3 linked regions of the Homo sapiens genome follow. The protein of the gene in region 1 interacts with the protein of each later gene in a biochemical or structural test. Each region holds a gene or a part of one and is shown on either strand. Other genes may lie near its edges. The genes, in order: NKX2-5, KPNA4 and TBX5.

Region 1 (10,391 bases):
GGCCTGAGAGGCTCCAGGCTGTGCCACCGTTGGGCAGACCCCACACTTCAGGGAGCTGCCAGGATCAGTGGCTACAAGAGTCCCCACCGTGTTTGGAGAAACTAGGTATGAAATATTTCCATTTACACCCCTACCCCGGCCCCAGACAGGAAAGTCACTTCAACCTTGTTAGGTCAGATTCCAGATCTGGTTCAGATGCAGGGCTATTTCAGAGAGATTTTTAGAGGCTGACTCTCAGGAGAGGGAAGGACAGTGGGCTGAAGGCCAGGGGTCAGGAAATCTAGGAACTGCTAAACTCCTCTGCTGGCCTGCGGGGAGCGCCCGGGTGGGGCTACCAAGGCCACAAGCCAGTTCCATCTTCCCACTTTGCCACCTTCTCACAGGGACCAGGCTCTGCATCCTCAGTGACCACAAGACTTGGGCCTGCCCTCTAGTTTGTCTATACCTGCCCCCTCCCTTGACTCATACTGTCCAAGACCCCAAGACCAAACCACAAGTCAGGAGAGATCTTGAGGGCAGCCAGTGCCACCAGGGTCCTGTTCCCAGGTACTACTAGACAAAGGCCACCCTTCCTCCCCTCTCTCTAGGGCTCCGCTGACCACCCTGCACAGTCTTCCTACACCACGGGCTCCGCTGCCACCCCTTCACAGAGAGTTCACTGCACCGCTGCTTCGGCTGCCTGTCTCAAACCATACACACACCTTTGATTCTTAAACTCCAAGATTAGGATGGGCCCCAGAAATCTGCATTTTTAATATGTACCTCAGAGGATTCTGGCCTAGATATTTCTACAGCCCCAAAAGTAACAAGGAACCTGTTCCAAAAAGTGTATTACGGAAACTGTCATGTTTATTCTTGACTTGCCCCCCAATTATTCTTCCCCTGAAGTTTTCATCACCAAAAAACCCCACATGTGAACCATATGTGTACATATGCCCATATTTAAAATACAAATTCTGCACCTGGTTTGCTATTTAAAGTATCTCAAAACATATCCATAAGAATACATATGAATGGAACTAATTCTTTCTCATGGCATATGGTATTCTGTTCTATTGGTACAACATAATTTTTTAACCAGTCCTCAGGTATATATACACTGGTTTTTTTAACATGTTTTGATTCTTAAAAAAATTAAAAACGGTGATGAAAATACTTTTCTTTGCATATATGTATATACCTATAGAATGGAATCCTAGAAATGAAAATATTTGTTCAAAGAGCTTATTCATTTTTAATTTTGGCAGTACCACATTGCTCCAAAGAGGTTTACCAGTTTACAATGTAGAAGCATGACGAGGCAACTATTACACTTTTTGATCTTCGTCAGTCTGATAAGTAAAAACATTTGCCTCTCTGTGTTTCAATTTGCATTTCTTTATTTCTTTTTATTTTTTCCAGCAAGGCTCTGATACTCTTGGTCATTTTTCAAATATTTTTGCTGGATCATTTTCTTATTGATTTACAGGTATTCTTTCCAAATTGTGGAAATCAGTACTTTGTCATGTATTTCTAGCATTTTTCCTGAGTACAGTTTTCTGTTGGATTCTATTAATGGTATTTTTGCTGTGCACAGATTTATTTTTATGCAATCAGGTTTATATAATTCATCTTTTATAGTTTCTAGGTCTTTTGTTCTCTTAATCCCCCTCTCAAATATAAAAGCACTCCAAAATTATTATTTTAATTATCTGTAGCACTTTTGTGTTTCATTTTTAACGTCCAAATGTTTGATCTATCTGAAATTGAATGTATTTGGTATAAGAAAAATCCATCACATTTTCCTTACGTTAACATCATTTTATTTTGAAAGCATATTGTCATATAGACCATCCCTCCCCCCACCCCAAATAGCATAATATTGCAATTGGCGGGGACTTCTCATCTTAACCAGTTTTACTTTGTTGGTTAGACAACTACCCACGTGCCTGTCTACCTCTGCCCACTGTCCAGGTGAGTTCAGGTAACAACCTGGGATGTCTCCCAGGATAGTGTCGCTGGAAAGGAACGCTGTGTACACCTCATACCACCAAGGAGACAGACACAAAACTGGGGACCAGACAGGAAAAGAGACATGCTCAAGATGAGCCAACTGCTGAAAAGGCAGGACCACACCCACCGCGGGCTCAGAGGCCAGCGCTCTTTCTGACACACGCCTGCCTTTTTCAGGGTCTGTGCATCTTGGGCTGTGCAACCCCAGCACCTGGTACATAGTGGGCACCCACTCAATGTAGGTGAAGGGATGGAGAAAATCAGGCCAAGAATCCAACAGTGACCAAGCTGTGGAGTCACTTGGCAGCTGGGTGAAAGCTACGGTCCACTCTTTTAGCCTCTCCCCTCACAGCCACACACACACACACACACACACACATACGCACAGTATCCACTAGCCATGTGGATCTGCTCTTTCCTTCTGTGGGCTCTAGGCCCTTCCTATGGCTGAGCAAGTTTCCATGGACAGCTCTTAAAGCAGCTTGGAGACTTTCTGTCTGTCCTAGCTGGCTAGCAGGGGGCTGGGGAGGGGTGGGGGGTGAGGGAAGGAAGCCAAAACCCAGCTAGGCAATAGAGAGTTAGTATTTCCAGTGCTCTGCTCAGACAGCCCAGAAAGCAGGATTGACTACATAGTTTGTGGGCTCAGCGCAAAATAGAAATGTGGAGACTCTGCTTAAAAACTTATGAAGAGTTTTAAGACAGCAACAGCGGAACATTAAACCAAGCTCAGGCCCTGTGAGACTGCACAGATGCCATGCCCATGAAGGATAGGGTTAATTATGGAGGAGGGGGAAGGGCCCTTTCAAGGACTCTAAAGCTTCAGACTGTAAGGTAGAAGTGGGCTGGAGGGGTATTCATAATAGACAAAATGTGGAAATAACCCAAATGTTTACCAAGTGATGAATGGACGAAGTGTGGCATAGACATACAATGGAATATTGTTCAGCCATTAAAAGGAACAAGATGCTGATACGTGCTACAGCATGGACGAACTTTGAAAACATTATGTTAAGTGAACGCTGCGAGACACAAACAGCCACATATTGTATGATTCCATTTGTATGAAATGTCCAGAACAGGCAAATCTATAGGGGCAGAAAATAGATTAGCAGTTGCCTAGGGCTGGGAAGGTAGGAGAGGGGATTGGAGTTGATGGCTAAAGACCACAAGTTTGTTTTTGGGGTGATAAAAATGTTCTAAAATTGTGGTGTTGGTTTCACAACTCTGTGGACATACTAAAAATCACTGAACTGTATACTTTAAATGGGTGGATTGTATGGTATGCGAATTATATCTCGATAAAGCTGTTATCAAAATAGGAGAGGGAAGGGAGAAGGGAAAGGAAAAGTGGGAGAGCGAGGGGAGGGGAAGGCGGAAGTGAAATGAACGCATGTTAAATTCCTCTCTCCCCCTCTCTTTCTCAAATGAACTTTATGCAGGAAATCTCCCTTGTCTATGAAGGTTGGGGAGACCTGGCATCTCAAATCCAACAGCCTGGTCCTCTCCCCTGGCTGCGGGGTGGGGGGTGATGGTGGGGGTCTTGCTCTTCCTCCAGTTGGTACGGTCTTGGGCGCAGCGACGTGTAATAAAAGAAAACAGTCTCAGCTGTGCAGTCAGCTGTGTGTTCGAATCCTAACACCCTGACACTGTCCTTTCCCATCTGTGTGACCCTGAGCAACTTACTCCACGTCTCTGAACCTCATTCTCCTCAGGCCTGCAGTCGGAATAAGAGGATCCGTGACGAGATCCGTGAGAGCGCCTGGCACACCCCGTGGGCACTGAACAAGCGTGGAAATGAGAAGGATTTGGTGCCAGCTGAGCCACCTGAATGAGGCGAGTCCCGAGGCAGGAAAAATCCGGTGCCGCGGAGGCCGCCTGGACTCTTCCGGAGCCAAGGGCGAGGTCGGCGGCCCTCAGAGTCGCCCCCCGCCCCCAACTCCCGGCCAGGAAGGAAGCCGGGCGGCGGAGGGGCCCAGCGCGGAGGCGGAGGCGGAGGCGGAGGCGGAGGCCGAGGCCGGGAGTCCGGCGCGCAGCCGGAGCTGCTCATCCATCAGCCGGACGAAGAGCAGAGTCGCGCTCTCGGCCCTCTGTTTGCTTTCTCGCCAATTATTGCAGCGCCGCAGCCCCTTTGTTGATACAGTAGTCCGAAAAAGTGCTAATGTTCATTTATCAGGGGGCCAGCCGGGGACTCCCACGAGTTGCGATTCTTCCCAAAATATAAACATGGGGCGAGCGTCCCAGACAGAAACTCCCATCTGTTTCCCCCGCGCGGGCCGAGAGCGAGGCGTTGTTGAAGATAAAGCCGCGGATAACGCCGCCTGTCTCCAATGGACGTCTCCCCAGCGCATTAATGACATTCCCGGTGATAGTTCCAGCTTATCTTTCAATTAATCATATATACCTTTTGCGACCAGCCCTGCTGATTGCACGAAAGGGGGGCCGGCTCCGGCTGCGCCGATCGCTTTTCAATTAATAATAATTTATTCACGGAGAATGCGCTCGAGCCACCCTGGAATTTGGATTATCTTAAAGCACCAACTCTTTAAAAGTCAAGGAAATACACAGATAGATTTTCGATCTCTTCTCTCTCCTTTTGTCTCTCTCTGCCTTTCTCTAGGCTGAAGGCTGTTTGTTTGTCCTGCTAGTTTGGTCAAAGTGCGGCGCAGAGAGGCGGCCAGGTTGGGTCAGCGGCCCTTGGGAAAAAAAGATGTGTCCCTGTTGGGGGCCAGAGAATCAAGTTTCCTCCCACCCAACCCCCAACTATTGCAATTTCTATTTAGATCTATTTAGAGGGATTTTTTTTTAACTCACTCGGAAACAGTGAGGACTGGAAAGAAAAGCTGCAAATGGCTCTCGGACTTTCCTCTAAGGAGACCAGCATGGGTCGCCCCAATTTCTATTTTGCACGTATTTGTCCGTTTTTGCCCCATCTCCTCTCTCCTGCAACACCAAGACCTTTTTGGAAGCCAAGAGAAATCATTACCCGATTCACAAAGAGCATAGAGAGTGTAACAGTCACTGATCTTGTTCAAATAGGGAGAGTTTTTTTTCCTTCCCTTTTTGTAACACCTGACCCACAGGACTGACAGTTCTAGGAAGCCCCCTTACCCGAAAATAGGAAATAAATCCTTGCCACCTTGATTTGCAAGGGCAATGCTAATTTTTTTCTTTCTCCAGAGCTCTCAAAAAAAAAAAAAAAAAAACCTTACTAAAAACAGGGATCCCGGATGTAGCCTCGATGTCCCCCATTAAACGGTAATATTTCAGGCGTCCGCTCACACTAATCTTTCAAACTGTCATCGCGAGCCGCCTGGCCAGCAGATTCACTTAACAGCGCTCCCAGGACCCTCGTTCCGAGCTCTTTTCAGCGAGACATTTAATTGAATCGGATGTGGCTCGTTTGCCAGACGTCACCGCCTCGGCGATAGGCATCCTCTCCAACGACACCCCCCCCCGCCCGCGCTCGAAAACAATCTTCAAAGGCAAGGCGGGCCCCCAAGCTAGGTTAATTTACAGCCATAACGGTAACGTGGCCAAAAGTCCAGGCGAGGAAGGGCCGCAAGGCCGCTGACATGCAGCTCCGTCCAAGGAGAATTTGGGTTGGGAGGTGAAGAGGTGGGGGGACGAGGTTTCCTGGGCCTTGAACGCCCCACATTTAAGAAAAGGCATCCTCCACAGACTAGACTAACAATTCCAGACCCCCAGTAGTCCCTGGCTCAGAAACTCGAGGCGTGATTTCGGCGTGGCAGCCCAGGCCTGTTACTGACGGCTGGCGCCTAGAAGCCGGGGTCAGGGCGTTGCGCGCCTCCTGGGCTGCCCTGCGGGGCTCACCTCTCTCCCCAGCATGGAGGCCCCAGGTCCTGGGAGTGTGGCTTTGATGAGGGACAGGAAAAGTCCCAACATCAGGCCAATGCTTGACTTCACTTGCGTCGGCGTCTCAGACGGCACACTGTCGGGTTTGAGCACCCAAGATGTACGTTCTGGACAGACACTATTTTGTCCCCATACATGGAGCGTTTCCTCCGCACCTTGGGCGCGCCTGCGGGAGCTGTGTCTTTAGGTAGTTTTTGGCCCTGCGCCGCCTTTATTCTACTCCAAGCGCCTCTTGCCAACCCGCACTCCGCAAAGAGCCAAGCCCTCCACATCCCCATTCTCAGCAAGTCCACGCGTCCCGCCCAGCTTCCCGCCCGCGGTTCCCTGTACCAGCTAGGGCCGTGAGAAGCCAACGCTTTTCCACTGACAAATCCTGTCATCCCCAGCTCTAGAAGGCGTCCTTAACCTGGGCCCGCTCTGCCTGCCCGGACTCCTGAATTGTAAGCAAAATAAAACTCCTCTCTGCAGTGTTCTGGGGAATGGAGAAGACCCCAAGCTTTCATCAGACCTCCCAAGGAGTGCGGGGACCCAGAGAAATGAGGCCACCCGGGCAGGATCTGGCCATGTAGCTGGCGCTCCTGAAACTCTGGCAGATTTGTCTGACTTCTGTGCCCTACTCTACTGACCCTGGGCTAAAAATGATCATGATCACCCCACTTGCCCTGCCCTTCCCCCACGCGCCTGACCGAGCCGCAGGGGTGCCCCACTGGAAGTCCGGCCCAGAGGCCTCAGAGAAATCCTGGCCTAGCTGGGCTCAGAGGAGCCCCGCCTCCCTGAGAGCTAAACCTGGGCTAGGACCCTGAAACCTCGAGGTTGGCAGAAGCCTGAGGGCCTTGCTGCCAGGCAGGGAGGGCACGGGAAGGAGGGAGGTGGGATCGATGGCCTCCAAACAGGGGAAACAAGGTGGCTGGTAGCTGGGGCACTCCACAAGACAGGTGTCTCCTGGGAAGCTGAGCTTACCAGCTGGGATTCCTGATTTATTTCATTATTAAGGGGAGAGGCATTTCCCTGGGAGGGTACTGGCAGTGACTGATGCCCCCTGGAGTTGTGCTGTGCATAACACTACTGTAGGAGGCAGCAACTCCTACCCCACCTGGCCATCACTCACCTTGCCCTTACTTTCGTTGACTCGCCCAGAAGCACCCAGAGCCTGCGGCATGACTGACCCTGTAGGCCAAGCCAAACCAAACCCCCGAATTGTCCAGAATCTCGCCCTGCTGCTATCCCCAAAGCCAGCCCTGTCCTCCAGGCTTCTCTTCCTATTCAGACTCTCCCTCATCCCACCACCTTCAGTAATAAAGCCTTCCTCAAATCACTCTCCTCCCCACCGCTTCCCACCCCATCCTTCTCTCTCCCATGCTGGTTTGGGTGCTGAGGAATATTTCTTCAAACCCACACCCATCCAGCCCTGCCCAGAGGCCTGACTCTGCATGCCTCTGGTAGGCTTTTCAGGCTCACATTAGGGAGCAAACGCAGGCTGCAGGAGCAAAAGGAGACCCTTCCAAATGCGTCGTGGCCCCTTTAAAAAAGCTGGGCAGGGCTTTTTTTTTTTTTTTTTTTTTTTTTTTTTTTTTTTTTTTTTGCCGTATGACTATATTAGGTGACACGAAACTGCTCATCGCTCCTGTCATCGAGGCCCCTGGCCCAATGGCAGGCTGAGTCCCCCTCCTCTGGCCTGGTCCCGCCTCTCCTGCCCCTTGTGCTCAGCGCTACCTGCTGCCCGGACACATCCAGAGCTGGCCGACGGGTGCGCGGGCGGGCGGCGGCACCATGCAGGGAAGCTGCCAGGGGCCGTGGGCAGCGCCGCTTTCTGCCGCCCACCTGGCGCTGTGAGACTGGCGCTGCCACCATGTTCCCCAGCCCTGCTCTCACGCCCACGCCCTTCTCAGTCAAAGACATCCTAAACCTGGAACAGCAGCAGCGCAGCCTGGCTGCCGCCGGAGAGCTCTCTGCCCGCCTGGAGGCGACCCTGGCGCCCTCCTCCTGCATGCTGGCCGCCTTCAAGCCAGAGGCCTACGCTGGGCCCGAGGCGGCTGCGCCGGGCCTCCCAGAGCTGCGCGCAGAGCTGGGCCGCGCGCCTTCACCGGCCAAGTGTGCGTCTGCCTTTCCCGCCGCCCCCGCCTTCTATCCACGTGCCTACAGCGACCCCGACCCAGCCAAGGACCCTAGAGCCGAAAAGAAAGGTGAGGAGGAAACACAGGCCCCCTTCTCCCCTCCTGGGTCGCTTTCGTCCCCAAGAAACTCAGGGCCAGGAGGAGGAGACACGCGCCCTTGGGCCGAGGGCTGGGCTGCGGCGGGGGGTTCAGAATGTAAGATGCCTGGTGTTGTCGCCAGGCTCCCGCGCCCCGCGTCCAATCGGAGGTTCAGAGGAAATGCCGGATTGAAAGGATCAGAAGCAAGAGACCAAAAAACGTTTCCCCCCGGCCTAACAAAGCCCCGGGCGGCTTCGGCTCTGCTCCTGGGTCTGGTAGGAAGTTGAGAAATCGGTTTATGGTAGACAGAACAGAGAGACAAGCAGATAATCTCTGTTTTTAAATCTCCTTTGGATTTACGAATCTTTTTAAAGATCTGATGAGAACCGCTAAACAGAAATTGAAATGTTGCTCACCAGACAGCTTTTGCGTACAATCGGAGGAGGGTCCTGGACCTTCTTTCTGCAGCCCACCCACGACCCGGGTTTCTGGTGCCTTTCTTTCTTTGCGCCAGGAAAGTGGAGTCTGGGATCGAGGGCCTTGATTTTAAAATGGGATACTGCGGACCCTCAGGAATCTGACTTCACTTTATTTTTTCAGCACAACTTGCCGGCGCGGCCAGGGCGGAGAGGTTCCCTCGTGGAAAAGTTAGGAAATGCTGCGCTACCGCGGGCACAAGGGAGTGGACGAGATGAGTGCGGGATCATCCCGCAGGCCATCCCAGGATCGGGGAGGGAGGCCGGCCCCGCTGCAGAAAGGGGCCTTCTGGGAGACCCCCCAGCCCAAGGCAGGAGCCCGGGCGATTCCCGGGAGGCCGCAGGCGCTGGGCGAAGCGCTGGGCGAAGGGCCGCTGCCAGCCGGGAGAGAATTCATAGGTTTGTTGAGGAGCAGAGGCCTGGGAACAAATTCGGGCGGGCACGGCGGCTAGAACTGATCGCTACCAATTCGAGGAAGCCAGCAAGGCAGGTTCCGAGGCCGCCTGCCCACCCGCAGCTTCTTGGACACTGCGCAAACCCTGCTGCGGCCAGGCTGGAGCCTCCGATCACCAAACCAACACTCCCTGGCCTTCTGTTTCTTGATTCCTTAATTTTGAGATAAGACCGTCCCTAGCAGTGAGGCCTCGGCCTCTGTTCATTTAACTTCTCAAACCAAACTAGCCCTAATTCAGTTCACCCCAGAGCATCACCTGGTTTTATTTTTATTTTTTTATTTTTTTATTTATTTTTTTTTTTTTTGCAGCCTGAAATTTTAAGTCACCGTCTGTCTCCCTCACCAGGGTGTGAACTGCCCCGAGGGCAGAGACCTCCCGTTTTGTTCTCCAGCGCCTTGAGCCAGCCTGACTTTCTACAAATGCTGAGTGAGACGTGTCGGTGGCTCCCAGTGCACTTGGCAGAGTGAGCCGCAGCCAGCTGGGCGCTCCAGGCAGGACACAGTGGCCTCCACGAGGATCCCTTACCATTACTGTGCGGCCGCGCTCCGTAGGTCAAGCCGCTCTTACCAAGCGTCTCTCTGCCTCTCTGTTCCCCCTCAGAGCTGTGCGCGCTGCAGAAGGCGGTGGAGCTGGAGAAGACAGAGGCGGACAACGCGGAGCGGCCCCGGGCGCGACGGCGGAGGAAGCCGCGCGTGCTCTTCTCGCAGGCGCAGGTCTATGAGCTGGAGCGGCGCTTCAAGCAGCAGCGGTACCTGTCGGCCCCCGAACGCGACCAGCTGGCCAGCGTGCTGAAACTCACGTCCACGCAGGTCAAGATCTGGTTCCAGAACCGGCGCTACAAGTGCAAGCGGCAGCGGCAGGACCAGACTCTGGAGCTGGTGGGGCTGCCCCCGCCGCCGCCGCCGCCTGCCCGCAGGATCGCGGTGCCAGTGCTGGTGCGCGATGGCAAGCCATGCCTAGGGGACTCGGCGCCCTACGCGCCTGCCTACGGCGTGGGCCTCAATCCCTACGGTTATAACGCCTACCCCGCCTATCCGGGTTACGGCGGCGCGGCCTGCAGCCCTGGCTACAGCTGCACTGCCGCTTACCCCGCCGGGCCTTCCCCAGCGCAGCCGGCCACTGCCGCCGCCAACAACAACTTCGTGAACTTCGGCGTCGGGGACTTGAATGCGGTTCAGAGCCCCGGGATTCCGCAGAGCAACTCGGGAGTGTCCACGCTGCATGGTATCCGAGCCTGGTAGGGAAGGGACCCGCGTGGCGCGACCCTGACCGATCCCACCTCAACAGCTCCCTGACTCTCGGGGGGAGAAGGGGCTCCCAACATGACCCTGAGTCCCCTGGATTTTGCATTCACTCCTGCGGAGACCTAGGAACTTTTTCTGTCCCACGCGCGTTTGTTCTTG
Region 2 (3,978 bases), on another chromosome or scaffold:
GGCACTATGAATTTCTAAACAAAACAAAACAAAAAAACCTGGCTAATGTCAATATATACTTATTTTTTAAAAGTCACACATCACAATATTCTTCTAATACAGCCTCAGGACTTAATCTGATTTTGACTAAAGTGCCAAAAGATATGAGGTAGGAGGAAACATCAATTTAAAAAATAAGGATAACTTCAGAAAGTCTGGCAATTCCACCAAAGGTTCAAAGTAAGTTTCCATATGATCTAGCAATTCTATTCCTAGGTATATAGCCAAGAGAAATAAAACATACATCCACACAAAAATGTTCTTAGTAGTATTATGTAAAATAGCTAAAAAAGTGGAAACAATGAAAATGTTCATTAACTGAAGAAGGGATAAATAAAATGTGGTATATCCATGAGCTGGAGGATCATTGGATCATTCGGCCATAAGGATCATTCGGCCATGAAACATTGATACATTCTTGTTACAACACGGATAAACCTTGAAAACATTACACTATGTGAAAGAAGCCAGTTAAAAAAGAGCACAAATTGTACAATTCCATTTATATGGGATGTCCAGGATAGGCAAATCTAAGAAGACAAAAACTGGTTGCCTGGGGCTGGGGTAGTTGGGAATTGGAGAGTGACTGTTAATGAGTACAGGTTTCTTTTTGGGGCCGTGAAAATGTTCTAAGATGGACTGTGGTGATGGTTGCAAAACTGCGAATACACTAAAAGCCACTTTAAGTGGGTGAATTGTATGGCATGCGAATTACATCTCAATGAAGCTGCCAGAAAAATGAAGCCAGAAATGTAGAGGAAAAAAGGGTTATAGGGATCTGTCAAGCACCTAATTGCTATTTTTCTGGATTCTGTAATTTTGTGGTACTTACCAGTTTTTAAGTTTTATCATTTGTGATTTTTTCTCATTCTAAGTATTCATATTAGTAAAAAACATTTTCACCACATTCTTTCATAAACAAGTAAATTTACTGAAAAATCATTGTTATTTAAGAAGCTCATTTTTATGGCATGCAAATTATCTCAATAAAGATGTGACATCTTTGCATTAAAAAAAGGGATCACAATGGTAATATGTTAACCTTAAAAGAACCACAGAATTAACATCCCTGGACACTTAGTCGTCCCTCAAATTATGAAACCCACTAAAACGCTTGAACTACTTTAAAGATAATATTAACAGCTTTGTAAAAAGCCCAAAAAATATCTCAGTCAAGCAGACTCTCAAGTTCAGAAATGCCATGGGAAGTTGAAGATTTCATTATGAAAACGTACCGAGAACAACATAAAAAATACTGCTTGACCACTTTCCCTAAAAGCTAAACTCGTGATTAAGATGCAGAAGGGAAGTATTAAATCTATTTATCTAAACTCTTAAAAGCTGAAGGGAAGAAGTCTTCTATCAAAAATCTCAGTGGGGTGTGTGGGTATGCGTGTGTGCATGTGTGTATTTAACCCATACACCTTATGTAGACAATCTCGGGAGCAGCTGTATCTAAGACAATGAAGCTTTTTTTTTCCTTTTTAAATAATCAAACGTGATGGTGCCATTCCCTAGCCCACCCCATCCCCCACTACCACCACCAGCAGGTGGAGGGAAAGGATACTGTAGACTAGAGGATGACAGCTTTGTATAACCCTTTAGACTTTATATGTAAGAATGCAGCTGGTGGTCTCCTCTCAGGAGGGGGTAAAGAGATTTGTGGACAAGCTGAAATAAGGGGTATCCTTTGCCTGGAAGAGGGCACACCGTGAGCCACATCTTGAATCAGCTATATCCAGAGTAAAACACAGGCCGCTGGAAGGCACTGTTAGGATCACCAGGATGGCCTCTCACGCCGGGGGTGTTTTTTTCAACGGAGAAGTTGTCCTGTAGTTTGGATATTGGGGGGAGGCAGGGGTAAAGCGGGAGTCGGGAAGACCAGAAAAAATGCCTTTAAGTGGAGACGCCTCGGGCCTCGCTGAGGAAGTTCAGAGCCCCACTCGGTCGCCACACGCTCACCCTCCCATTCCCACCGCCCTCCTTCCCGCGGCGCCAGACGTCGGTGCCCGAGCGAGAGCCGGAATCTCCGCCACTGCCGGGGAAGGGGCCGCGGCCCGGCCGGGGCAGCACCGGCCGCACACGCACGCCTCCTCCGCACGCGCCGCGCCCGGCCTCCCCGCCGCGCGGCCCGGCCCCTCGCACCCGCGCCGGGCCGGCTCCGCCGGGCAGGCCTAGGCCGCGCCGGCCGTACCCGGGCACCTCGCTCCCCGGCGGAGGCGGAGCAGGCCCGACATAAACTTCCCGGCGCGCTAGCAGAGGCGTCACAGACGGGCCGGCCCCTAGCGCCATTCCCCGAGGCCTGGAGGCGGCTCCCGCCCCTAATCCCCACACTCGGGGTCCCGGCGGAGACCGGCCCCAGGCCCACAGCCCCCACCCCTCCGGCGTCGTCCCCGAGTTTACCTCCAAGTCGCGGCCTTTGTTCTTGAAATTCTTGAGCCGTTGGTTGTCCAGTTTCTCGTTGTCCGCCATGGCCGGGCCGGTGACTCCTTCCCCCGCCCGGGCCCCGCGGGATCCGCCCCAACCAACGCGCCGCACCGACACTCCCAGGAACCGGGCCGCCGCCTGAGCTGCTGTGCCCGCCGCGCCGCCGCTTCCTTCCTCCTCTCACCTGCCTCCGCCGCGGCCTTCTCCTCTCCCCGCCCGCCCCCCCGCCCTAACCCCAGCGCGACTGCAGCTCCGGCAAAGACAACTGTGGGGCCGGGCGGCGGCAAGGCGACGGAATGTGCTGCCGGCTGAGAGGGGGAGGCAGCCTCGATCTGAGGGCCCCGGCGCTGCGGCCACGCCCATCGCCTCCAGCCCGGCTCGCCCATTGGCTAACCAGGCTCCGGTGCGTTCGACCAATCAGAAGGGGCGATGGAGAGCCGGGGCGGAAAGAGCGAACGGAAAGGGGAAGCGAACGACGCTGGGAGGAGCCGGCTCCGGGCCCGGAGGGGTGCGGCGGGGGCAGGCGGGGAAGGACCACGTGCCTTCGGAGAGAGGGGTTGGAAGCAATAGAGAAGTAGACTTAAGGGGAAACCAGCAAGGGGAAGGAGAGGCCCGGGAACGCAGCAGGGCGAGTTGTTTTGCTCCACTCGTCCAGGAAGCCCTAGATGCCGGGGGTTCAGGGTCGAGGCTGCGTTAAAGTAACGTTCTTTTCTCCCCGGGCGCGCCCTGTCTTCCTGGGCATTCCTTGCGCTCTCCGTTCGCTTTGCAGAGAGATCTGAGCTTCGCTGTCTCCCGGTCGGACGCTCGCAGCTGCGTTCCCGGGCTGGGGCTCCGTGCCGTCCAGGGCCGGGTCTGGGGGCCAGGACCTGCTGGGATGACGTGAGTTGAGGAGGCTCAGCGGAAAGCGACAGGAAAGGTGGGTGGAAAAGGAAAGGGCCCATTAGACGAATCTGATTCATCTTCTGTGACTAAGCACCCGCAACAGTTAGGAATTTAGGCAGAGCTGGTGATCCTGGGACAATAGCACTTCCTAGGTAATTCGTCTTAAAAAGTTAAAGAAGCTGCTTGACCACAAAGTATGAACTTCTGGAGGGCGGGGCCCGTGGCAGCTGACAGGGAATATTGTGTGTTGAGAAAGGAAATGAGTTCCAAGGATACCAAGGACAACGTTACCAGAGGCAGAAATGACACGAGATACAAAAGAACGTATTCAAAAATTTAACAAAACAGAAATGGAAAATTATTTTAAAATATATTGAAATATCAACGAATAACACCTCAAATGTACAGGGATATGTAAAGCAGCAACTCGGGTCGGAAGCAAGGAATCGAGGCGTTGGGTGTGTTTAAACTTGACGAGGTAGGGAGAAGAGACCCTGATACAAACTCCTTCAGAATCGTTGACTCTCGGTCCTTTCTAGTATATTTTTTTAGTAGAACAACGTGCAGATAAGTGTTTAAAATGCAGATCTTCCTAAGGAAACACTTTTAAAGGCAACAGAGGGGAATTTT
Region 3 (10,115 bases), on another chromosome or scaffold:
CCACCCCCACCTTGTGAGGGAACAAGAAAAATAGTCTGCTCTGTCGACAGCGCGACACTGTTCCGTTTGCCAAAGAAAATTTGTCTTTCCAGAGTCCCAGAGAGCAGTGGGTTCCTATGTTTCCAACGAGCCCTTCAATTGAGGGAGGAGGTATCCAGACAGGCCCCCCACCTTCACCCCAGACCTAGACATATTAGTTTGAGTCTCTCTCTTGCAGGGTTACAGACCTGGAATGCCCTATGTTTCTTCCCCCTACCCCAAACATTTTGGGAGACCTATCAGTGGGTTTTGACCTGCAGGATGGTTGAAGTTCTTAGGCTCAGTGTGACCCTGGGGGTACTCCATGGTCTCCCAGATGGGACCCTCACCTTTCTAGGCTGGGCACTTCCCAAATTGGAGGAGATAAGAACAGTGGCATCCTTGTGTCCAAGCACCACTCGCTTCCACCTTTCTGCTCTTTGAAGTGTGTAAATTTTTCGCATTGGGATCCTTCTCAGCTGGGCCTCGAAATGATATCCTCTCTTCCAGTTCTCATTTCATTACCCCGAACAGGAAAAACAAAAAAACAAAAACAAAGAAGAACCCAACCACCACCACCACAACAAAAAACCCTCACCCTCCAAACTTGGAGAGTAAAGAGGACGATTGTCATCTAAAGCACACAAAGCAACACTAACATGAATGAGGAGAGCAGCGATAATAATTCTTGGTGGAAATATTGGAGGAGAGTATTGGACACTCAATAATCATAATAATAACAGCCAGTATTCTTCCCACATACTTCCGGTCAAAAGTGGGGAAACCAGAAACCGAATAAAACATTGGGAAGAGACATACTGTGTTCCTGGAAAAAATATAACAGAGCCAGATTTAACTCGGTGAGAGGGAAAGTGACCCCCTTGAGAAACCAGGGAATGTCTCACCCTCAGACCAACCCTTTCTTTTGCAAATTGAATTGGTCAAAGTTTAGTTTTGTCATCATTTCTATTGTTATAATTCTTATTCATTTTCCCAGCCCCGTCCACACTTCTATTTTTCACTACCCCCACGCCCCACAAGTTGCCACCGGGTCAGGTGGGGACATATCCGGAGAGAAATAGAAAGGGATGCATTTTAAAGCGAGTTCTCTTTTGAGAGGAAAACAATGGGTAGTTTTGGAAGTGTCTTTCTTAAAAACGGAAGGAGAAGGTGAAGAAAAAAATTATCAACAGCAATGGGCCCCTTTGGTTTGGGTTTTGACTTTTTAAAGAGGAACCTCTGCTGTCCTGTTGCAGTATTAAAATCAGGGCAGGAATTTTGCAAAATGAGAAAAATAAACTTCGGGAGAAAACCCAGCTGGGAGCAGCTTCGGGAAAGCGACAGTTCTCCGAAAGGAGGAAGGGAGGATGCGCGCTGTAGCCGGCTCCGGAGTTTACTGCCCGAACGATTGGGGAAAAGAACGAGGATTCTCAAATCTAGTTGCGATCTCTCGTCTCTCCTTTATTCTGTTCGTGGTGCGGGCTTCGGAGCGTCTGGGAAAGCCAGTCTGTGAAGCTGGACTTGCAGAATCCTTTGAATGCCGGTCCAGGTGGCTGCAGGGCCCGCAGTCCGGGATGCCGGAGAAAGGAACCACAAGGAAAAGACGCTACGCTCGGAGTTTCCCCTTTTCCTTGCAGCCCCGGCGGGGCCTAGGCCTCGGTTTCCGGCCCACCTCGGCTCAGAGGTCAAGTAGGAACTCATCTCGTCGACCTAGGGTTTGGGAGAAGGATTTCGGGTTGCGTTCTTGGCATCTGGGAGCAAACACGAGCCTCGGATTTGGGGACATATCGTTATTAACAGCTTGGGAAACGAAAGCGAAGCTCGGGGCAGCCACTGCAGCCTGGCTGAGAGAAAGGACGCGGGTTGTGCTCTCTGGAAGCAAAGGGGTCTGCGGCCCAGCTGGCCTGGGAGCTTGTGGCCGGCGCTGGAAGCTGCCCGCTCTCCCCGCGGGCCTGACCTTGGCTCCCGCCGCAGCTCTGCCGGCCGACTGCCTCCCTGCACATTTTGCTGCCGTTCCAGTCCTTACAGGACCGGGCCTGGAGCCAGGCCATGCTTCGGAAAGCCCTGGGGGTTGGGGACGCGCAAAACCCAGAATCGAACCCCGAAGCTGGGGGCAAGTCCAGATTCAGACGTCCAGCTCCCTCGGGACCCCTTGGCGGAGAACTTACCCTTCCGGAAGGCCCGACGCTCTCCGGCTCTGTGCTGGGCAGGCCTAGCTCTTCTCTCGGCGCCACCAGGGGCGTCTACGCGGTACGTTTTGCAACTCAACCTAGTGGGTTTCCAGCGGTGCGCAAAAGTTTGCGAGCATCCACCACTGCGCTGCTTAGAAATTGTGCCCATTGATCAGACTAAAAATAATAGTCGTCGTGATTACAAAACAAAATAGAGTGCCTCGTGCCTCGGCGGGCCCTGGTACAATAATTATTCTCTACAGAAACCACCTCTCTCCACTCCCACCCCTACTCCACCACCCACTCGCACCCCGCCCCTGCCGGGCCACTCTGGGACGAATTGCATTCTTGGACCTTTCTCTCCGCAAGGCACATTACGGAGAACTCCCTCTGTCTCGTGTCCCCTCCACGACAACCCAGTAATTATTTCTATGCAAGTCTGCAAGAGGGCACTGAGTTATCGCATCCCAAGCCTAACCAGCTAGAGCGGCGCCTCGGTATTCATTTGCCCAGAGCTCCTCCGCGGGGGATTTAAAAATAATAATAATAATAATAAGGATCCCATGCCTTATGCAAGAGACCTCAGTCCCCCGGAACAACTCGATTTCCTTCCAATAGAGGTCTGAGGTGGACTCCCACCTCCCTTCGTGAAGAGTTCCCTCCTCTCCCCCTTCCTAAGAAAGTCGATCTTGGCTCTATTTGTGTCTTATGTTCATCACCCTCATTCCTCCGGAGAAAGCCGGGTTGGTTTATGTCTTTATTTATTCCCGGGGCCAAGACGTCCGGAACCTGTGGCTGCGCAGACCCGGCACTGATAGGCGAAGACGGAGAGAAATTTACCTCCCGCCGCTGCCCCCCAGCCAAACGTGACAGCGCGCGGGCCGGTTGCGTGACTCGTGACGTCTCCAAGTCCTATAGGTGCAGCGGCTGGTGAGATAGTCGCTATCGCCTGGTTGCCTCTTTATTTTACTGGGGTATGCCTGGTAATAAACAGTAATATTTAATTTGTCGGAGACCACAAACCAACCTTGAGCTGGGAGGTACGTGCTCTTCTTGACAGACGTTGGAAGAAGACCTGGCCTAAAGAGGTCTCTTTTGGTGGTCCTTTTCAAAGTCTTCACCTGAGCCCTGCTCTCCAGCGAGGCGCACTCCTGGCTTTTGCGCTCCAAAGAAGAGGTGGGATAGTTGGAGGTGAGTTTCACCCTGGAGGACTGAGGGGGGAAATAGGTTTCTCTTTGCACTTGGCCCTCCTTGGCTTTTCACCCCGTCTTAGTCTTGCTGAATCTTCTCTTGCTGTGCTGCTACTTCTCATGAACGAAATAAGAATGGCTTCGTGTGTCACCTGGCAAGAATGGATTCTCTCGAAAGGTTTGAAAATCCCTATTTTGCTTGGTGGCCCAGACCATCTGTGCTCAATGAGCTAAGCAAATCTGGCTGGGCTATTACCTGGGAGAGTCCAGATTTTTCCTCTCTGGAGGGGCCTGAAGATTATTTATGGGAATTAATTTTATCCCCAAATCTCTGAGAACTTAAAGGGATTGGGAAGGTCTTTCTGGATTTCCCTTTCCCTCTACTGGAGATGTAGCGGTTCAGCCTTCTTCCGATGCCATGTTTGTTTTTCGTGTCTTCGGCCTAGGGTCGCCTTGCCAGCAAGCCTAAAGGCCTCCAAGCTGACTTGGAGGGTGAGGGTGTTTTCACAAATAAATACATCGCCTGGGCAAAGGGAAAATATCTGTTTGCAAACAAACCTGGAAGGTGGAGTGAGCACCATAGCAAAGGAGGGCTGGCTTTCTCCCCGGTTGCCCCACATTCAGGGTTGGAGATTCTCCACTTTGGCATTTTGCAGCAATGGCCTGGCCTGGGATTTTAGCAGAGCAGTCACAGAGGGTTACACAGCTGCTGACCTCGGGGCATTTCTCCTCCCTCCATCCCTTTCTCCAGACCTTGACTTGCAGGCCCAAGTCTCTTATCAGAACCCTAGAAAAATCAGTATGATGGGGGTACAGGAGGTAAGGATGGGAAACAGAACAGGACTCCTGACATTTACTCCAAGCACCAATATTCGGTGTCCCAATCTGGGTCTGCTCAGACTGAGACCTACTGACTGTGTTTGTGCTTTTATTGACCTCTTCAACTCACCCTAAAAAAAAAAAATACATCTCAGAGAGGGAAAGGGCAAGGAGAGGAGACCAGTGGAGATGAAAACCCTAGCCAGTCCCCAGTGACTGTTTGATTATTTTAATAAAACTGGGCACTGCCTTGTGTACACCTGGAGCAGGGGACGTCTGGTGGCCCCACTGGGTGGGGGGTGAGGGCCCGCAGCGATTTCTTAGCATCTTTGATCTCGGCCCCCATCCCAATGCACCTTCACCCTGCCTTCACCCCAGAGTCGTTGAGAGTAGGGGTGATGAGTAGGGGGTGGAGGGGAGATGTCAGGAAGGCGAGCGCCGGCCAGGCGGGGTCAGGCAGCTCTCCTTCTCGAGGTCAGCGTTGGAGAGAATGTCTGCAAGGCTGCGGAGGCCCGCGGTGTGTTTGTGTGTGTGCGTCCAGACTCGGTTCTCTGCACCGCCAGCGTCACTGAGATTACTTCCCGATTAGAAGCCGACCGCGTTTGAAATGATTTGTGCAGGAGTTTTTGCAGCCACCGCTTGCTCAGAGAAGCAGAGATGGATGGAGGTTGGGAAAGGGGTAGAGAGGAGGGAGTTATTGCAGGTCTGTGTTGAGAGTCGTATTGTGATTTGAGTGTTCGGGAAATCTAGTGGAAATTTGGGGTGGGGGGAAGGGAGGACGGGAGGGTGGGAGGGAGAGAGAAGGGGGAGGGCGACAGAGTGCAGTGGGAGCTAGTTGGATAGGCGATTTCAGTACTTTGTGAGCATCGAGGCAACCCAACGTCACTGTGCTCAGCTGAGTTGGCTTGTATTTCAGAGAGAGAGAGAGAGGGAGAGAGAGTGAGAGAGACTGACTCTTACCTCGAATCCGGGAACTTTAATCCTGAAAGCTGCGCTCAGAAAGGACTTCGACCATTCACTGGGCTTCCAACTTTCCCTCCCTGGGGGTGTAAAGGAGGAGCGGGGCACTGAGATTATATGGTTGCCGGTGCTCTTGGAGGCTATTTTGTGTTCTTTGGCGCTTGCCAACTGGGAAGTATTTAGGGAGAGCAAGCGCACAGCAGAGGAGGTGTGTGTTGGAGGTGGGCAGTCGCCGCGGAGGCTCCAGCGGTAGGTGCGCCCTAGTAGGCAGCAGTAGCCGCTATTCTGGGTAAGCAGTAAACCCCGCATAAACCCCGGAGCCACCATGCCTGCTCCCCCGCCTCACCGCCGGCTTCCCTGCTAGGAGCAGCAGAGGATGTGGTGAATGCACCGGCTTCACCGAACGAGGTAACCGTCCCGGCAGATGGCCCGGGAGGCTCAGGAGGGAGCTCGTCGGCCGAGTCGGCTGGGGCGGCGGGAATGGCGGATTCCAGCCCGGCTTTGCATTCTGCAGAGCACAGCTTGCAGAGATTTTGCGCGGCTCGGAGCTCCCCGGCAAATGGAGTCTGGGAGGCCGCCGCGGCTGGCGGAGCGGCATTGAGGTTTGCAGAAGCACGGCCTGGTTCTGTCAAACCGCATCTTGTTCGCCTCCGCCAGCCCAGAGCTCCCCGGGACCCTGGCGAGGGCGCGGGGTAGGATTCTCCCCGCGGCCGGCAGTGAATGGGAGCGCGTGTAGGGGCGCCAGCCCTGCTTTCTTTTGTTGTGAGTAGGCAGCGGGGCTCCAGTCGCCGCCTCCCTGAAGCCCCGAGAACGAGGCGAAGAAAGCTGCTTGCAAGTCAGGCCTCAGAAGCTGTCCTTCTCCTCGGCCCCATTTCTAGATCTCTGGCCACAGCAGGTCAGGGTGGGATCTGGCCGCTTGCTTAAGCAGCTGCTGAGGTTTTGGGGGACCATCGCTTGTGCCCGCTTCCCAAAGTCTTCCCGTTCTAGGGGGAATTCCTACTTGCGTATAGAAGAGATTGGAAGGAGATCAGAGAGCAGGAGACAGGCTCATCGGGCTTGAACAGCTCTGCGGCAGTTATTTTGTGTGTTCTAAGCTCATACGCCTGCAAACCCGGGCCGTTCTATGCATTGCGGGGACCCGGGCTGCAGATTCAATGTCTCCAGCCTAGGACTTATCCGAGAATGATTTTGTCCTCGCCAATCCTGAGCCTGAGCCTGCAGTTTTAGCAGGCCAGGCCTGGCTGAAGTTCAGAGAAACCCCTTTCGGCCTGGTCACTCCACAAAATGCCCGCCATCCCCCGCCCGGCATCAGAGCGCTGGTGGCGGGCACCCAGTGACGAGCCTTCCTCGGAACGGCTGCACGGTGACTTTCTTCATCTAGTCTTCTGTTTGGCTACTTTTTATCTTTTAACGAATCTTACTTAAGGTTGGGATAAAGAAAAGGATGTTTAATTTTAAAGGACTTTTAATGTTAAGGCCTGTAACTGGTAAAAGGTGTATATGAATTCTCTTTTGAACCTAGTCTCAATCTGCACAACCTTCCCCTTCTGTGTTTTTCTTTTTGCAAGAGGCGGGTTATTTCACACATTTCTGCCTGCTGCAGAAAACTATTCCTCTTGTGAGGTTTAATAAAAAGAGTTTCGACGGCATCTTGTAATTTGGCGAAGAAAGAAATTCTCTAAAGGACACTGGGTTTTTGTTTTGTTTTGTTTTTGGTTCCTACCCAGTGGCTTCCAAAAATACCCACGCCTTATCTTTATTGGCTCTTCCAGAAGTCCAGACAAATTTGACGGGCAGCTTGCTTATCACGGAGAGCCTGCGCAGGGGAGATGCGGGCCTCACCTTCTCCGGGTCTGACGCGGGTCTTTTGCAAGAAGTTGTGCCTGCTTATAAAGTAATAGTAATACTACTAGGAATACTAGTAACAGTAATAATTCTAGGGCCTTCTGCAGTCACCTTCGGCTGGGAACGGAGGTGCTGGTAGCTGGAAACTGGGGGCCAAACTGCTCCCTCCTGTCACTAGAATTGTGCTCTCCAACCTTTCTCTCGTTCTCTCTCTGTCCTCCCCACCCCCATCTCCCCCTGCTTCTTGTCCTCAGAGCAGAACCTTGCGCGGGCACAGGGCCCTGGGCGCACCATGGCCGACGCAGACGAGGGCTTTGGCCTGGCGCACACGCCTCTGGAGCCTGACGCAAAAGACCTGCCCTGCGATTCGAAACCCGAGAGCGCGCTCGGGGCCCCCAGCAAGTCCCCGTCGTCCCCGCAGGCCGCCTTCACCCAGCAGGTAAGGAGACCTCGCGCTTCGGGTCCCTTTGCAGAGATCAAAGTCAGAGTCTGGCTTTCCTGCTCGGCTTCTCTTGCGGGGACAGAACAAAAACAAAATAAAAAAACCCCAAAACGAACCCAACGACTATAATCATCCCTTTTCCTTTTTATTCCCACTCAGTTCCACCTTTCTCTGCCCTGTCTCCCCAAATGCTAGCGTATTGCCATCTACTTTATTGTGACGGTTATCTTTACGGCCAAAGGATTTTTGAAATCTATTTAAATTGTTCGAGAAATCTCAATTATCCGGCCGTTTGGGGTCAGCTAACAATGGCCTAGATAATTCCTTTCCCTCTGCACTATGTGTAGAATCGGCCCCCAGCATCTTAATAAGGGCCAGGTCAGCGGCCGATTCAGGCCGGCATGAGCGATGGCTTGACCCCTCTTCTGATCTTCCGTAGCCTTCGCCTCCTCCCGCCTCCTCCTGCCTCCTCCTGCCTCCTCCGCGCCGCCGACTAGACCCGCGCGCCGCACCATTTGTCTTGCGGTCGGGGCCTGGCTGGCTGGCGCGCCATCACCGGCCGCTGGGAGCGCACAGAGCTCTGCCCGGAGGGCACCAGGAGCCTCGGGTTCGCCAGGCTACAACCTGGGCCCAGGCAGAGGGAGGAGCCTCACCTTGCGCTCTGCGCCCAAAACCCAGGACGCACTGGGCGCTCAAGTCGGCCCCTCAGTAGATCCTGGTAATTTTTAAATAAGGTGTCACATGGGGTGAAACGGGGTGACGACCAGAAGAGACACTTACACATGGCTAAAATCCTGCCTTGGGATTTCGATCCCTTCCTGGCTTTTCCCGGCTTCTCTCTTTGGCCTTTAAGTTTCAGGAAAACGTGTGTATATTTGTAGAGAAGCAGAGAGCGTGAACACAGTTTAGGAAACTTAGGGATTTTTTTTTTTCTTTTAAGGAAAAGCAAACCCACTTTTTAGACTGTTGTAAATTATTCCAAAATGAAGAGTTTGTGTGTGCATGTATGTGTGTGTGCACATATGTATATATATGTATATATATACATTTGCATCGGTTCTGTAAATTTAGTTTTAGCTGAAAGCCAAAATGTTAAATGGCATCAGGCGTGTCCTATAATCAAAATAGCTGGATGTGAATGGAACTACTTGTAGAGAGAGCCTGGAAGGTTTGTTAATATAGATATTTAGGATTAATTATCCTTCTGGACTGTAAGAATATATGATAATACAAACATTTTTAGGTTTCAAAATTCATGTATGTTCAGGTTTGCACTCACCATGGTCGAGAATAAGCAAGTATTTGCACATCTGTATGTTTGATGTGTGGGCATCTGAGTGTCTACATGAGAATATTCTGAGTGGTTTTCTAGATTAGGTTCCTAGTTTTTCTAAATTAGGTTTTTTATCTATCCCCCCCACCCATCTCAGGTGAAGTGGATTGAAATTGGCTCTGGTTTTTTTTTTTTGGTTTGTTTGTTTGGTTGGTTTTTTCTTATTCCGGTCCTCCTCAGTGACATTCCGGAGCACCCTGATGGTGGGTGATCACTCCATAGCCTTGTGCTGATGGCATTAGAAGCAGACAATACAGCACTGTGGGTTCAAGTGGTTGTTGCAACCCTCAGGGATTCAGCCTACATAGGGATCCCTGGGCAGAGGCTGTTGGGTGCTCCAGATAATTCTGCAGTGGGCTGAAGCCACTTTTTACTCTCTGAGACCACAGGCTCCAGCGGGAAGGAGGAGCAGTCTCTGTGTTTTGGGGGAGTTTGGGGAAGGAATGCCCACTACTGCCAGGGCTTGTTAGTGTGACTTTTTTCTCCTTCTTGCAGGGCATGGAGGGAATCAAAGTGTTTCTCCATGAAAGAGAACTGTGGCTAAAATTCCACGAAGTGGGCACGGAAATGATCATAACCAAGGCTGGAAGGTGAGATGGTTTGTTGTGTAGAGAGAGGGACGAGGAGAAATTGTGGGAGAGGTGAAGAAGAAAAGGTGGCTTGGAAGAGAAGAAGGAAGGAAAGGGGCAAAAGGAGAGGGAATATAGAGAAAGAAGAGAAAGGAGAGGAGAGGAGAGAGAGAGCGAAAGATAGATCCTGGTTAAAGAGGCACAAGGAGATTCCTCCATTGATCTCTCCTAGGATGGAGGAAATACTCCAGAAGTTCAAGCCCGGAAACTGGGCATTTCTCCCACCTCACATATAGAAAGAATAAAGAGCTTGGGAGGCCGTGCTATCTGGATTCGTAATGAGGGAAAGAGAGAAGAGGGAAAGGAGAAAACAGAAAACAGAGACCCAGAGAAGACAGAGTCTAGAAGGTTTTTGGGTTTCAGGGATCTTGGACTTTATCTTTACTCCAATCCTCATTCCCACCCTCCCTGACCTTGGAGTGGCTCCAGGGTCCCACCCGATTGTCAAACTCTGAATCGTTGGATGTATTCGCTACCTCTTTCATTGTTTATAGAAAGCAGGCGAAGCCTTTAAAACTGAACCGGGGCTCGGCCGGGCTCTATATACAGACACCAATAAACACGGCAGCTTCGCCAAGACACTCGCCCCGGAGTTCCCCTTAAAAGCTCGCAGAGTTTTAGCTAGAAATGCTAGACTTCTGGGGGAGGAGGAAGGAGAGTGGTGCAGCTCTGTATGTCAGTGTGAGTGTGTGAGCATGTGCACGCGCG

Evidence for each region.
Region 2: the proteins of NKX2-5 (region 1) and KPNA4 interact in a test that uses a peptide from one of them, tested with the Homo sapiens proteins (one study listed by BioGRID).
Region 3: the proteins of NKX2-5 (region 1) and TBX5 form a complex in vitro, tested with the Homo sapiens proteins (one study listed by BioGRID and IntAct).

Annotation. Positions count from the first base shown.
Region 1 is NC_000005.10:173,232,407-173,242,797, reverse strand, and holds the start of NKX2-5 (homeobox protein Nkx-2.5), read left to right. Parts: upstream 1-7,591; 5' UTR 7,592-7,714; coding exon 7,715-8,048; intron 8,049-8,657; coding exon of another isoform or gene 8,658-8,752; exon of another isoform or gene 8,753-9,289; intron 9,290-9,296; coding exon of another isoform or gene 9,297-9,301; exon of another isoform or gene 9,302-9,333; coding exon of another isoform or gene 9,334-9,455; exon of another isoform or gene 9,456-9,588; coding exon 9,589-10,229; 3' UTR 10,230-10,391. UniProt on the Homo sapiens protein: Transcription factor required for the development of the heart and the spleen. During heart development, acts as a transcriptional activator of NPPA/ANF in cooperation with GATA4.
Region 2 is NC_000003.12:160,562,772-160,566,749, forward strand, and holds the start of KPNA4 (importin subunit alpha-3), read right to left. Parts: upstream 2,801-3,978; 5' UTR 2,512-2,800; coding exon 2,443-2,511; intron 1-2,442. UniProt on the Homo sapiens protein: Functions in nuclear protein import as an adapter protein for nuclear receptor KPNB1. Binds specifically and directly to substrates containing either a simple or bipartite NLS motif.
Region 3 is NC_000012.12:114,401,079-114,411,193, reverse strand, and holds the start of TBX5 (T-box transcription factor TBX5), read left to right. Parts: upstream 1-5,049; 5' UTR 5,050-5,566; intron 5,567-7,257; coding exon of another isoform or gene 7,258-7,295; coding exon 7,296-7,442; intron 7,443-9,273; coding exon 9,274-9,368; intron 9,369-10,115. UniProt on the Homo sapiens protein: DNA-binding protein that regulates the transcription of several genes and is involved in heart development and limb pattern formation. Binds to the core DNA motif of NPPA promoter.